Linked DNA regions of Homo sapiens. The protein of the gene in region 1 binds, or shares a complex with, the protein of each later gene. Each region holds a gene or a part of one and is shown on either strand. Other genes may lie near its edges. A codon is read from its position in the direction of its gene.

Region 1 (6,516 bases):
TGGACATCTACTGAATACCATTAACCATAATAAGTGCTTTTATTTGGATCAACAAAACTATAGCCCTGAGAGTAAAGTACCTTTCTATCTTACAGTGCTTAGTGGTAAAATCTTCTGACTCTAAATTGAACCTCTACATTACACAGTACCATAGCCTCTGACACCCGAACTCATATGAAAGGGCTAGTGACTTAAGAGTCCATCTGAAAGGATTTCTAAAGTTTTTATTTTAAAAAAATTATTATTTTACCACAGTAATGACTACGTATAAAGTTTTTATTTCTAGTCGGAATTCCGTCTTGTATGACTTGAGAGCTCCTTCCTGGCTTTAGGACTATGAGGTCTTGAGGACCCTCCTTTTGAATGACACTGTCCCTCCAGAGAGTAAACCAAGAGCTGGAAATACATGATCATTGGTACTCAGATGGGGATGAAAGTGAAAGTGTTATAGACCAGCTGTCCTTTTTAGGAGGTCTCAGTCCTTTGAGCATCTGATAAAAGCTTTAGACTCCTTCCACAGAAGAATACACTCATGTTGCATATATTTCAGGGGATACATGGACTCTAGGTCAAGAAACCCTGCTCTAGATACAGAATGGTATACAAGGCCAGGAGTTCAAGACCTGCCTGGCCAACATGGCGAATCCCTGCCTTGGGGATCAGGAGACAAGATTCTACTTCAGGCCTTGTTACTAGCCATGTGTGTGACTAGTTGCCTAGCTTTTTTGGTTTTCTCTTCATGTATGAGATAATCTGGGTGGTGGCCTTTTAGCTTTTAATGTGGAAACAGCATAGATTGGTTGTAAGGCCTGGGTTCAAATACTGGCTTGCCTACTCTTACGAAACTGGAGAAAATATTTAACCTTATCTGGGTTTCAATTATCTATGAAATACAGTCTTCCTAACCTACTGTCTTAAAAGAATTTTAATTTGGATGAAATTACACAGTGTCTGTGAAGGTACTTTATCAGTTTTCCTTCCCAGTGTACATTAGCCACTCTTCTGCTCCCATAGCATTTCCATGTGTCTCTCCTAGGTTAACACATGGTTTTGCTGTTGTCTCTATATTCATCTGTCACCCTGGGCAGGTTGTGAGTTCCTCCAGGGCTCGTACCATATATTATTTTTGTTTTTGTGTTGATAGCACTTGTGCGATACATGGTAAGCACCCGATGTATACTAAATGAATAATATAGAAAATAGTAGAATAGGCCAGATGTGGTGGCTCACACCTGTAATCCCGGCACTTTGGGAGGCCGAGACAGGCAGATCACCAGAGGTTAGGAGTTCGAGACCACCCTGGCCAAATGGTGAAACCCCCTCTCTAAAAAAAAATACAAAAATTAGCTGGGCATGGTGGCACGCGCCTGTAATGCAATTACTCAGGAGGCTCAAGTGGGAGAATCGCTTGAACCTGGGAGGCTGAGGCTGCAGTGAGTGAGCCGAGATCATGCCACTGCACTCCAGTCTGGGCGACAGAGTGAGATCCTGTTTCAACAAAAGAAAAGAAAATAGAAGAATAATATAAAAAGTGGTTGTGATTGGTTTACTAGGGCATTATAAAATTTATTGATAGTACTCAATTAAGGGATGCTTAAAATCAGTGAAGTTAGAGAATGTTTCAGAAAGCCAAAATGAAAGGACAGGGAATAAAGCAGGGGCATCTTCAGAAGAGTGCAGAGCAGCTCAGAACCTTTGTGCTTCTATTTTCCTTGTATCTGGAATGGTTTTCACCAGCTCATCTCATGCCTGGCTCCTCCTCATTCTTCAGGTCTCAGCTTCAGTGTCACCTTTTCAGAGGGGTTTTCCCTGACCACCCTAGCTGAAGTAGCTCCCTGTTTCCCTATCTGTTACAGCTTTCTACTTCTTGTATGAAACATTTCTTTTTTTAAGATGGAGTTTCGCTCTTGTTGCCCAGGCTGGAGTGCAATGGCACGATCTCGGCTCACTGCAAACTCCGCCTCCCAGGTTCAAGTGGTTCTCCAGCCTCAGCCTCCTGAGTTGCTGAGATTACAGGCACCCACCAGCATGCCTGGCTAATTTTTGTATTTTTAGTAGAGATGGGGTTTCACCACGTTGGCCAGGCTGGTCTTGAACTCCTGACCTCAGGTGATCCTCCCACCTCGGCTTCCCAAAGTGCTGGGATTACAAGCATGAGCCACCGTGCCAAGCCGAAACATTTCTTAAGATTTATAATTATTTCAGGGCTGGGCGCAGTGGCTCACGCCTGTAATGCCAGCACTTTGGAAGGCTGAAGTGGGCAGATCACAAGGTCAGGAGTTTGAGAACAGCCTGACCAACATGGTGAAACCTCGTCTCTACTAAAAATACAAAACTTAGCCAGGCGTGGTGGTGCATGCCTATAATCCCAGCTACTCAGGAGGCTGAGGCAGGAGAGCCGCTTGAACCCGGGAGGTGGAGGTTGCAGTGAGCCAAGATCATGCCACTGTACTCCAGCCTGGGCGACAGAGTGCGACTCCGTCTCAAAAAGAAAAAAAAAAGATTTATAATGATTTCATATTTATTTAATGTCTTTCTACTGCCTGAATATAAGCTTGAAGGAAGGGATGATGCTTATCTTTTTCACTATTGTATTTCTAGTGCCTGTCGCAGAAAGAACATAGTCTATGTGTTGAATAGGTTAATAGAAGTTTAGGGTACAGGAGCTTAGGTCTAAATTATAGATTGAGAAACAGCTGTTTTTCTGTTCCATTACTGTGATCATGCTTTATTGTATACCTGGCACCTGGCACTAGGGTGACCAACCTTCCCAGTTTGCCCAGTACTGAGAGATTTTCTGGGACACTGGACTTTCAGTGCTAAAACCTGGACAGTCCCAGTCAAATCAGGATGATTTGGTTTGACCCTACCTGGCATGTAGCAGGCACTTGGTACTTTGTACTTTTTAAAACTCTTTGATACTTGTTACCTCTTTTGATTATTAAACCCACGTGGAAGGTAGGGCACGTGATAGAGCCTGATGGCACTGGATACATGAAGCATCCGAAGCTCACAGAGGCTAAGTTACACGCTTAGGTGTTCTTATTCCTACTCTAAGATTTTAATGCCAGTCAAGAAAATTGTAGCACTTTGGGAGGCTGAGGTGGGTGGATCACTTGAGGCCAGGAGTTCGAGACCTGCCTGGCCAACATGGCAAAACCCCATCTCTACTAAAAATACAAAAATTAGTCGGGCATGGTGGCGCACACCTGCACAAGAATTGGTTGACTCTGTCTCAAAAAAATAAGAAAATAATGTTAGCTCAGTGTCCAATACGTGGTAGGTACAGATACATGCTTTTAAAAGTTCAAATTATAATATGGCTCTCAAGGTGTGAGGTTGATAATTAGGGCTGGGACACTTAAGATGGAGAGTCTTTAAAGTGGGGTTAGTGTCTATCCCTATTCTAGTTCCTAAGAAGATATAAGAGGAAGAAAGAGAGTTGCTTTGTTTAGTTTTGTTTTGAGCTTCCTGAACAAAGTGTGTGTGAGAGAACTGATAGAAGAAAGTAGATCTCCACTTTTCAAAGGCGTATTAGCGTCTGCCTTATGCGTGGCACTAAAGGAATAAATGAAGTACGCATAAGATCACCTTTGCTCTTAAGGAACTGAAAATCTTATTAAGTTTTTAGAAGTCAAAAGTCTGAAAGTTGTTAAGACTTGCCAGAGCCTAAAGAACATTCTAAAACCCCTCGTCAGGCCCACACAACCTGACAAAGTGAGCGCATTCATTGACAGTGGCACCCTCCAATCACCCCCAGTACCCTATTCCTTTTCAATTTTACAGGAAGCACAAGCTTGAACAGGGCCCAGACTATAGTCCTATCCTAGATCAAGTCTAGGCAGGTACCTCCTCTTCCCATGGCTCCACTGCTTTTATTCAACCCTATGTAAGGACTGTGGCAGATGGAGAGTCAGCCCACAGTCTTAAACCTCATTCCACAGTTGCACTGGGTGGTTGGAACACAGATGGAGGCAAGGGGGCCATCTTGTCACCCAGAGCCTGAACTGAGTGGGACCTCTACCCATTGTCTCCACTAACAGTCACATGGCCACCTGCTGCCTGCAATTTAGCGTTGCGTTGCTCCTCAAACTTCTCTACCTCTCCCAGAGGAAGTTGGTGAGGTGAAGGAAGGAAGTGGCCAGGAATAACTACACTAACAGCAACCTCGTATCCATAAGTAAGGTTAGCTTCCACTTCCAGCCACCTTCCAGCATTCTGCCCTGGCTCACTGATAACCCTATCCACAAGCACACTTCCACTCCCATCTTTGCAGAAGCCTAGCCCTTCTCCCTAGCCACACAGCTGTATCGTGCATTAGCACTTGAGTTGTATTAAAAATGAATGTAGACCGGGTGTGGTGGCTCATGCCTGTAATTCCAACACCTTGGGAGGCTGAGGCAGGCGGATCACTTGAAGTCAGGAGTTTAAGACCAGCCTGGGGAACATGATGAAACCCTGTCTCTACTAAAAATACAAAAATTAGCTGGGCATGGTGGCACATGCCTCCAGTCCCAGCTACTTGGGAGGCTGAGACACAAGAATCACTTGAACTTGAGAGGCAGAGGTTGCAATGAGCTGAGATTGTGCCACTGCACTCCAGCCTAGGCAACAGAGTGAGAGTCTATCTCAAAAAAACAAAAACAAAAACAAAAACAAAACAAAACAAAGACAACGTAGAGCCAGTCAGGGTGGCAAGAGCACCTGTAGTCCCCACAACTCACGAGGCTGTTCTGTGTAGTAGCTGTGTTCTTAGTATTCCTGATGTGACAGTCAGCTTGACCTATGGATATTTTAGTTAAGATAAAAACGAAGAACAAAATTACCTAATTCAAGAAATTACAGGCTTATCCGGTATATCTATCCATGTTTATTTCCTCTGATGGTTTCAGGTTGATTTCAAAATACTTAACTAAAAACGTATTTCAATTTACTGTTTTTAAAAGACAGTTACCAGTTTAAAAGACAGTTCTGTAAGTCAACTATCAATGCTCAGGTAAATGTATATCTTAATTAAGTTTAACTTACCTCTCCAGGGGGAACACACCTGAAACTAGAGGAACAGCTTATGTGGTCTATGAGGACATCTTTGATGCCAAGAATGCATGTGATCACCTATCGGGATTCAATGTTTGTAACAGATACCTTGTGGTTTTGTACTATAATGCCAACAGGGTAAGTATAGCAAAGTTCTCATTGTGTAGTGATCTCATTTGAGAATTAGTGTAGAACTGGCCGGGCGCGGTGGCTCATGCCTGTAATCCCAGCATTTTGGGAGGCCGAGGTGGGCGGATCACGAGGTCAGGAGATCGAGACCATCCTGGCTAACACGGTGAAACCCCGTCTGTACTAAAAATACAAAAAATTAGCCGGGCGTGGTGGCGGGCGCCTGTAGTCCCAGCTACTCGGGAGGCTGAGGCAGGAGAATGGCGTGAACCCCAGGGGGTGGAGCCTGCAGTGAGCCAAGATCACGCCACTGCACTCCAGCCTGGGCAACAGAGAGACTCCGTCTCAAGAGAATTAGTGTAGAACTGTACTGTGATGATATATGTCTACTATGACTTTCTTTTTTGGCTAATGCTATTGATGAAATTCATTTGGCTGTAGATTGGTAATTTAATTTTGGTGCTTACCACATTTCCAGGCATTTCAGAAGATGGACACAAAGAAGAAGGAGGAACAGTTGAAGCTTCTCAAGGAGAAATATGGCATCAACACAGATCCACCAAAATAAATGTTTTCTACATTTTCATTTGGACTAAATCCCACGAATGACAACTACCACCTTTTTTTCCTTTTTAATTAATACTAAATATTGTGATTTCTTATTTGAGGTTCAAAATGACCTGCTTGAAACTTTGATACATATTGGAATACATTATGTTAATAAACTTGTAGCTTTTTGTGAAACACCTCAGTCTTTTCTCTTGAACTTTCCCTTCCTGTTTGATACCAGGAAAAAACAGTTGAAGCTTATCAAGAATTGTAGGTGCTCCTAGGGATTCTGAGTTTCTTGAGAACAGGATCTCTTTACATTCTTAATGCCTCCAGGGCCCGGTGCAGTGCTTAGCCATCAAAGGAACTTGCTGTTTATTGCATGTCCATTAATAATGAAATCTTCATAACAACTCAGTGAAGATAGGTATTTGCATTTTGCAGGTGAGGAAACCAAAGTTCATGATGTTGGTTGAATGAATAAAATGCTAACATACAAAGCTGGTGTGATAACAACCAGTTATTAACCAAGCCTTTACATTTGAATAATGCTTGCTTTATAGTTAACAAAACACCTGTGTCAATATGGGTACCCTTGTCTTTAGAACAGAGGTCTATTATAGAAATGGTCATTTAGATGATAGTACATTGTTAGAAACTTAGATTTGCCTCTTTAAATTGTTTTTTAATTATTATGGGTACATAATAATTGTCACATTGGTAGAAATTTGAGAGCAAGCTGCTTGGGTAGTGGCGTTGGTTGTTACATGTCTAAGATTGTATTTATGTAGACTTTTCCTT
Region 2 (8,027 bases), about 170 Mb from region 1:
ACTATAATATAAATCATTTTACTGAACACTACAAACAATACTGATAAATTGATTCCTAAATGATTAATTCTATTAAAAAAAATTTCAAGGCCAGGCATCGTGGCTCACACCTGTAATCCTAGCACGGTGGGAGGCCAAGGCAGGACTGCTTGAGCCCAGGAGTTCGAGATCAGCCTGGGTAACATAGCGAGACCCCATCTCTAAAAAAAAATTGTAAAAATTAGCCAGGCATGGTAGCACACGCCTGTAGTTGTAGCTACTCAGGAGGCTGAAATGGGAGGATCACTTGAGCCCAGCAGTTGTAGGTTAAGTGAGCTATGATCACGCCACTGCACTCCAACCTGGGCAACAGGGCAAGACCCGGTCTCAAAAATAAACACAGGAAAAAATATATAGATCAGCAAGATACACAATAACAAAACTATAACTATTCCAGCCATTTATCAAGCAAAGAATTAGGGAAAAAACTTTTTCAGCTTTGTGATGTCCCAAAAAATCTAATTCAAAGGATTAGTGGCAAAACAAGCTGATATGTAGGATTTTTGGTTAAACCATTTTCCCCTTACAAAACAGAGAATAATGTGTGTTCCCTGTTTGTATGCCAAAGTCAGCAGTATCTGAAGAACTGCTGGATGGCAAGATTATGCATATTCATAACCATACACCTGACATAATACGTGGAAAGATCTAAAAGATTTTATCTGATTTGAGTAATTCCAGTTCTTTTTATATTTCAATCCTGGAAAGCATAAGCCACATTGGCCAGGGTAAAATATAATCAGATTGGTTAAAGAGGATGTGAGGCCTGATCCTAATAGAAATGTTTGAAAGGGTTCAGGCATGGTGGCTCATGCCAGTAATCCCAGCACTTTGGGAGGCCAAGGTGGGAGGATCACTTGTGGTCAGGAGTTTGAGACCAGCCTGGCCAACATGGCGAAACCCTGTCTCTAAAAATACAAAAATTAGTCGGGTGTGGTGGCACATGCCTGCGATACTAGTACTCAGGAGGCTGAAGCAGGACAATCGCTTGAACCTAAAAGGCGGAGGTTGCTGTGAGCCGAGATTGCACCACTGCACTTCTGCCTGGGCAACAGAAAAAGACCCTATCTCAAAAAAAAATAAAAAATAAAAAAAGAAATGTTTGAAAGGAATATGACAGCAAAATAAATAAATAGTTATCAGTTTATCTCAATCTTGGAGCTAAGGAGAAGAGAAAATCTTAACACAACAGACTATTCTAAGCAATATAACATTTATACTGAGTACTATAGCAGCACTGCCCCAAAAAGCATTAATTCTGCTTCAGTTTATCAAAAATGGCTTAACAAGAGAAAACAGTGATGGACCATGAAGAACTAGAGTTCCATTAGGAAGGAAGCAACAAGCTATGTCAGTATTATGTGTATTTCTACTAAACATTTATCATCCCCTGACATATCCCATAGGGATGGGCACAGACAGTGCTCAAGTATTGAATGTTCTGCTATTTTCTTATGGTATCACTTAATTCACATTGATAGAATAATCTCAAAAATAACAAGTTTGGCCAATGAATAGCAATAGACCAAAGTTTTTAGCTGGGTTTCTAAAAAATTCAGGAAAACTGATCAGAATTCTGATTTTCCTGTCTGAGGGCATCTTATACTGAAGTTACCAATAAATAAGTATCAAAGCTATACTATCAATATCCCCAAATGAATAACATCCTGAATGAACAAAAACAGCACAACTTTATATTTTCTACTTACTTTGCAAAAGGTTATATTTGAGATAGTCTAAAGACAAAATAATAAAGCCTAGGAATACTAAGAGAGCATTTAAATCCTAAATACCTAAAATGGTATACTAATATTAAAGTCATTGACAATTCATTAGCATGTTTGATAAATAGCAGAAAGCTGGACTTCAGGTCCTCTGGGTGACCCAACTATTCAAAGCCATTCACATTCTGGTCCTAATCCAACCTTTCCAGATTCATTTATTTCTTCTCTACTTGCACCCTCTGTTCCTGCTACAGTGGACTACTACTCAAACACACCTTTCACGATTCAATACCTTGTTACAAGATGTTCTCAGGCTCAGATGTCCTTCCCGATTTAAAACTGACTGATCCTTTTAAAACACGGTCATGTAACCTCCTCAGTGAAACAACCCTAAACATAATCATTCCGTTACCCAGGTTCCCAGAACATGCTGCTTTTTCTTCTACTTAAGCATGCATCTGGCCTCATGAGAGAATGAGAACATACACATCTGTTTCTCCTATCAGACTGTAAAATTTTGGATGGCCTCAGTCTCTTACCTCTCACAGACTAATACCGAGCCAAATACCCAGAAAGAACATATGAAACAAAAGTGACTTAGAAGTCTCGTTCTCAGTGAAAATCTCGGATTCCAAGTCAGAAATCAAAGAATGCAGTTCCAACTTCTCATGCCTCGTCTTTTCTGAAAAGTGATCCCATTTTCTGTCATCTCTGGATACTTCCTAATGAACTCCAGTCTATTCCCAACGTTTTCCTAATTTGCACACTCTGTATTCCATAAAACGATCAACTAGCTTGAAAGCTTCGGCCATTAATGAAAGTAATTTATGTTTTCCTCTTCCATCTGCTCCTCCAATAACCAGTCTCCAAAGAAAAAGATCAATATTATACTAAAAGTGACTAAGGGAGGGAAAACAACTACCAGATTTTATCCCCAAATCGTTTCGTGCAAGAAAAATAAACAAGTAACTGACGCTTGAAGACACACAAGGGTAGGAGTAACGGAATCTCGGTTTAACCAAATTCGATTCAGTCTGCCGGAAAAGCGGCTGCCGTATTTCAGTGCTTTTCTGACCCTCTTCTGCACAAACTATGGGGACGACAGTGTCGAGAGGCGAGTGAGACCTTCTCCCCACGCCCGCTTCCCCGATCCCTTGCCCACGAATCCTACTGAGGAAGCCGCTTAAACGAGGCCCTCTGGTCAGAGAAGAGAAGCTACTCTGAAGTAGCAGGTCCCAAACACTGAACAAAGCGCCTGTCGGGGGTGTAAGAGGAGGACGCCATTACGCGGGGCAGTGGCCTGCGCCGCTGGCGCGGAGGAGACGACCCTTGGCCCCGAAACGCGGGCTCAGCTCCTACGAAAGAAACCATAGAAAAAGGCAGAATCCTAGGAAAAAAGGCTTTTATTAGGCTAGCAACGAAGAAAACACGTAAGCAGGGAAAGACCGCTTACCTTCGTGAGTCTTGGCGATCTTCGCCATTTTGTCCACTCGAACACACAGACGGAACTGGCGCTCCCAAGAACTTCCGCTCGTCGCCGCCGCCACGGAGAAAAATAGCTGGGGGCTGCACTCTGCGCGTGCGCCAAACGGGAGCGCGCTCCGTCGGGTGACACGTGACAGAACTGCCACCTAGAGGGAACCGCGAGGTGCATTGTGGGTGGGGGAGGAGACACGGTTGGGCCCTGAAGTCGCCTGCGTGGTGACCCAGGAAATCCCCGAGCCGAGCCGTAAGGTCCTTAAGTGAGTAACTTTGCCCTGGAGGAAAGTGGATTCTACGAAGGGAGTTAAGAACAGACACTGAGTCCCAGCAACTCTGGAGGCTGAGGCGGGAGCATCGCTTGAGCCCAGGAGTTCGAGGCAGCCGTGAGCCGTAATCGTGTCGCGCCACTGTACTCAAGCCTCCAGACCGGGCGACAGAGCAAGACCCCGAGACCCCTCCCATTAAAAAAAAATGAACACTGTACGAAACGCTGCGGTTTCAGAGCTGGAAGAGACCTCAGACATTCAATCCCTTTTCCCAAAATTCACTGGAAGAGCTCGAGGAAAACTTTCCCTTGCAGCTGTCTCAGTCTTTACAGTGCTTAGTTACGAAGACAGTCTTAACAGTCCCATCTTTCGCCCTGTAATTCAAGGTCATTTTTCATTCTTTCTGTTTAATAATTGCAAATAATTTGGGTAGGAATTTCGTTGAGCCTCACAAATCGTTGCTGAGTTGCACAGTGACAATCTTGCCACCCTTTTAAAGCCTTTTACTTTATGGGTTCCTAGAAAACCACTCATCGTCATTATTAACATTCATTAGATGTTTCTCTTAAATCCTAGACGGTATTCCTAAATCAGGAATTTTAATAGATCAGAATACGGCAGTCTGTTTTCCTGGGCATCAATTATAATATAACCTTGTACTGTCACACTGGTCTTTGACTTCGACGATGAAAAAGAAAGAAAGGCTCAGAAAGATGGGTCCCGGAAGCAGCCGAGGAAAACAGGTAGTTATCAAGGTTAGAGCCATCACAAAGAGAGGAGTACCTCGCTATGTGATAAACCTGCAACCCAAATACTAACCATACCATGGGTCAGTATGGTCGTTTGAAGGGAGGGAAATGGTATGGGTGTATTCCTCTTGCAGGAAGACCCCATATCTACTTTGGGTAAAGTGAGGAGCCATTTTCCTGAGGCTAGCGGTAGGTGGGAGATATATGGACAATGGCACTGGACTGAGAGCTTAGATAACCTGTCCCTGGTGACTCCTGACCTGCAGCCTTGCTCCCTCTTTCCCTCTCACCAGACTCCCTCCCTTCTTCAGATCAGGTGACACAAACGATTTTTTTTCTGTTTTTTTGACACACAGTCTTGGTTTGTTGCCCAAGCTGGAGGGCAGTGGTGCGATCACAGCTGACCCTAACTTCGACCTTAAGGTTCAAGAGACTCTCCTGCCTCAGTCTCCAGAGTAGCTAGTACCACCAACATGGGCCACCATACCCAGCTAATTTTTATTTTTTGTAGAATGAGATCTTACTATATTCCCCAGGCTGGTCTCAAACTCTTGGCCTCAAGCAGTCCTCCTGCCTCAGACTCCTAAAGTGCTGGGATTATAGGCGTGAGCCACCACAGATTTTTATTAGCATCAGTAAAGGAATAAATTTGATAAATTAAAATTTTTGGCCAGGCGTGGTGGCTCATGCCTGTAATCCCAGCACTTTGGGAGGCTGAGGCAGGCGGATCACAAGGTCAGGAGTTCAAAACTAGCCTGACCAACACAGTGAAACCCCATCTCTACTAAAAATACAAAAATTAGCCGGGCATGGTGGCACCTGCCTATAATCCCAGCTACTCAGGAGGCTGAGGCAAGAGAATCGCTTGAACCCAGGAGGCGGAGTTTGCAGTGAGCGGAGATAGTGCCACTGCACTCCAGCCTGGGCAACAGAGCGAGACTCCGTCTCAAAAAAAAAAAAGAAAAAAAGATGTGATGGTTAATTTTAAGTGTCAACTTGACTGGATTAAGGAATACCTAGAAACCTGGTAAAGCTATTTTGTGGTGTGTCTGTATGGGTGTTTCCAGAGATTAGCGTGTGAGTACAAGTGGGCTAGGTGGGGAAGATCGGCCCTCCGTGTGGCCAGGTACCATCCAGTCTGCTGGGGACCCCAGGAAGAACAGAAGCAGAGAAAAGGTGAAAATGTCAATTTATGTGCGAAGGCTGGCTACATCCAATCTTCCTCTATTGTTGTTTTTGGACAACGACCCCAAGCTGCTCAGCCTTTGGAATCCTGGATTTACACCAGCAGCACCCTATCCCCACCCCTTCCTCCTGGTTCTCAGGCCTTTGTCCTTGGACTGAGTTACATCATTGTCTTCGCTGATTCTAAACCTTGGGACTTGGACTGAGCTACCAGCATCTCAGGGCCTCTAGTTTGCAGATGGCCTGTCAAGGGACTTAGTCTCCAAAATTGCAGGAGCCAGTTTCCCTAATAAATCCCAATGTGATAGTTCTTATCCCACAGGCCCACTTTAGTTCAGTTTAGTTTTGCTTTGTTTTTAGAAATGGGGTCTTGCTCTGTTGCCCCAGCTGTAGTGCAGTGGCTCACTCCAGCCTCAAACTCCTGGGCTCTGGCGATCCTCCCAACTCAGCCTCCTGAGTAGCTAGGATTACAGGTGCACACCACCATGCCCAGCTACTTTTTAATTTTTTTTTTTTGAGACAGAGTCTTACTCTTTCACCCAAGCTGGAGTGCAGTGGCGTAATCTCAGCTCACTGTAACCTCTGCCTCCCTAGTAGCTGGGACCACAGATGTGTGCCACTACACCCAGCTAATTTTTTATTTTCAGTAGAGACAGGGCTTTGCCATGTTGGCCAAGCTGGTCTTGAACTCCTGGCCTCAAGTGACCCACCCACATCGACCTCCCAAAGTGCTGGGATTACAGGCGTGAGCCATCTCACCTGCCTACTTTTTAAATTTTTTGTAGAGACAGGGTCTTGCTATATTGCCCAGGCTAATCTCGAACACCTAGCCTCAAGCGATCTTCCCATCTGGGCCTCTCAAAGTGCTGGGATTACAGGCAGGAGCCCCTTAACCAACTTCGAGAACTTGGGAAATAAGATGTGGTGGGTTCTTGCCACCGTGAGCCAAACCTGGGTCAGAACTTCATGTGTGATCTGGCCCCTACATACACCCACTCTGATAGGATATTATGACACTTTGGATAACAATGTCGATTTGGACCTTGTGTCCCACAGGTCTTAAAATATTTGGTTATTCCACTTTTCCCAGTGTATAGTTACCAGAGCAAATGATAGTTCCCTTTGGAGAAGTATTAAGGGATCATTAACAAATACTAACAAAAAAAAGGAAAACAAAACAAACACTGTGGTGTTACACAGTCCTTCCTGGGGACCTAGCTTCTGCTTCAATTAGATGACCTGAACTCATTTCTAGATCTGAAAACTACCTTAGGTCTGGAAACTAGCTGAAGATCACTTTTTTTTTTAAATTGGGACAAGTGCCTTCAGCCTCCTAATGATTCATGTTTTATTTCTCTTGGTTGCACAGATTGAGCAGTACCCTTGTAGGCTGCCCATCAATCTTGCCTCTAAGGATACCCAGTTGTATGAATCATATATTTCTGCAGGTCAACCATTCTGACCTTATGCTAATTGTGACAATTGTGCCCACCTTGCTGCTGACAGTTAAGCATCACTAAAGTAGGAAATAGGGTCCAAACCGACACTACTTAAGGAGGGCAAGTAGTGATGGGACCTCATCATCCCATTGCTATCATGGAGCTCATCACTGTCACTGCATCTGCTGCTTTCACCTAAGGTCTGTAAAAGACAGCCACATTGGTGACAGTACCAAGCTGAGCTGTATCAGTGAAGTCAGAGGCAAACGGAAAAAGCAGTAATAGTGATTCTTTTTTTTCTGTTGTGTTTTTTGTTTTTTTTTTTTGAGACGGAGTCTTGCTCTGTTCCCCAGGCTAGAGTGCAGTGGCACGACCTTGGCTCGCTGCAACCTCTGCCTCCTGGGTTCAAGTGATTCTCCTGCCTCAGCCTCCCAAGTAGCTGGGACTACAGGCACATGCCACCACGCCCGGCTAATTTTTGTATTTTTAGTAGAGACGGGGTTTCACCATATTGGCCAGGCTGGTCTTGAACTCCTGACTTCGTGATTCAACCACCTCGGCCTCCTGAAGTGCTGGGATTACAGGCATGAGCCACTGCGCCCAGCCTAGGGCCATGCTACTCTTAATACTAATTCCTAGGTGGAGTGTGGTGGCTCACATCTATAATCCCAACAATTTGGGAGGCTGAGGTGCAGGGATTGCTTGAGACCAGGAGTTGGAGACCAACCTGGGCAACATAATGAGACTTTGTCTCAATTAAAATAAAAATCAGTCCTGGAGCTGTGGCTCACGCCTGTAATCCCAGCACTTTGGGAGGCCGAGGCGGGTGGATCACCTGAGGTCGGGAGTTTGAGACCAGCCTGACCAACATGGAGAAACCCCATCTCTACTAAAGATACAAAATTAGCCGGGTATGGTGGCACATGCCTGTAATCCCAGCTACTCGGGAGGCTGAGGCAGGAGAATTGCTTAAACCTGAGAGGCAGACGTTGCAGTGAGCCAAGATGGTACCATTGCACTCCAGCCTGGGCAACAAGAGCAAAACTCCATCTCAAAAAAATAAAATAATAAAATAAAATAAAAATCAGGTCAGGCGCGGTGGCTCACACCTGTAATCCCAGCACTTTGGGAGGCCAAGGTGGG

The links.
Region 2: the proteins of SF3B6 (region 1) and SF3B1 are in contact, whole or in part, in a crystal structure (PDB 2F9J), measured with the Homo sapiens proteins. Residues at the interface, in NP_057131.1 of Homo sapiens: Arg12, Leu13, Pro14, Pro15, Glu16, Val17, Arg19, Ile20, Ala32, Met35, Tyr36, Arg46, Gln47, Ile48, Arg49, Val50, Gly51 (codon at 5,038), Asn52 (codon at 5,041), Thr53 (codon at 5,044), Thr56 (codon at 5,053), Thr59 (codon at 5,062), Ala60 (codon at 5,065), Tyr61 (codon at 5,068), Val63 (codon at 5,074), Glu65 (codon at 5,080), Asp66 (codon at 5,083), Ile67 (codon at 5,086), Phe68 (codon at 5,089), Tyr92 (codon at 5,161), Ala97 (codon at 5,645); in NP_036565.2 of Homo sapiens: Trp388, Ile392, Arg395, Asn396, Arg397, Pro398, Leu399, Ser400, Asp401, Glu402, Glu403, Leu404, Asp405, Ala406, Met407, Phe408, Pro409, Glu410, Gly411, Tyr412, Lys413, Val414, Leu415.

Annotation. Positions count from the first base shown.
Region 1 is NC_000002.12:24,066,980-24,073,495, reverse strand, and holds the end of SF3B6 (splicing factor 3B subunit 6), read left to right. Parts: intron 1-5,036; coding exon 5,037-5,175; intron 5,176-5,644; coding exon 5,645-5,734; 3' UTR 5,735-5,910; downstream 5,911-6,516.
Region 2 is NC_000002.12:197,431,756-197,439,782, forward strand, and holds the start of SF3B1 (splicing factor 3B subunit 1), read right to left. Parts: upstream 3,274-8,027; 5' UTR 3,245-3,273; coding exon 3,217-3,244; intron 1-3,216. UniProt on the Homo sapiens protein: Component of the 17S U2 SnRNP complex of the spliceosome, a large ribonucleoprotein complex that removes introns from transcribed pre-mRNAs.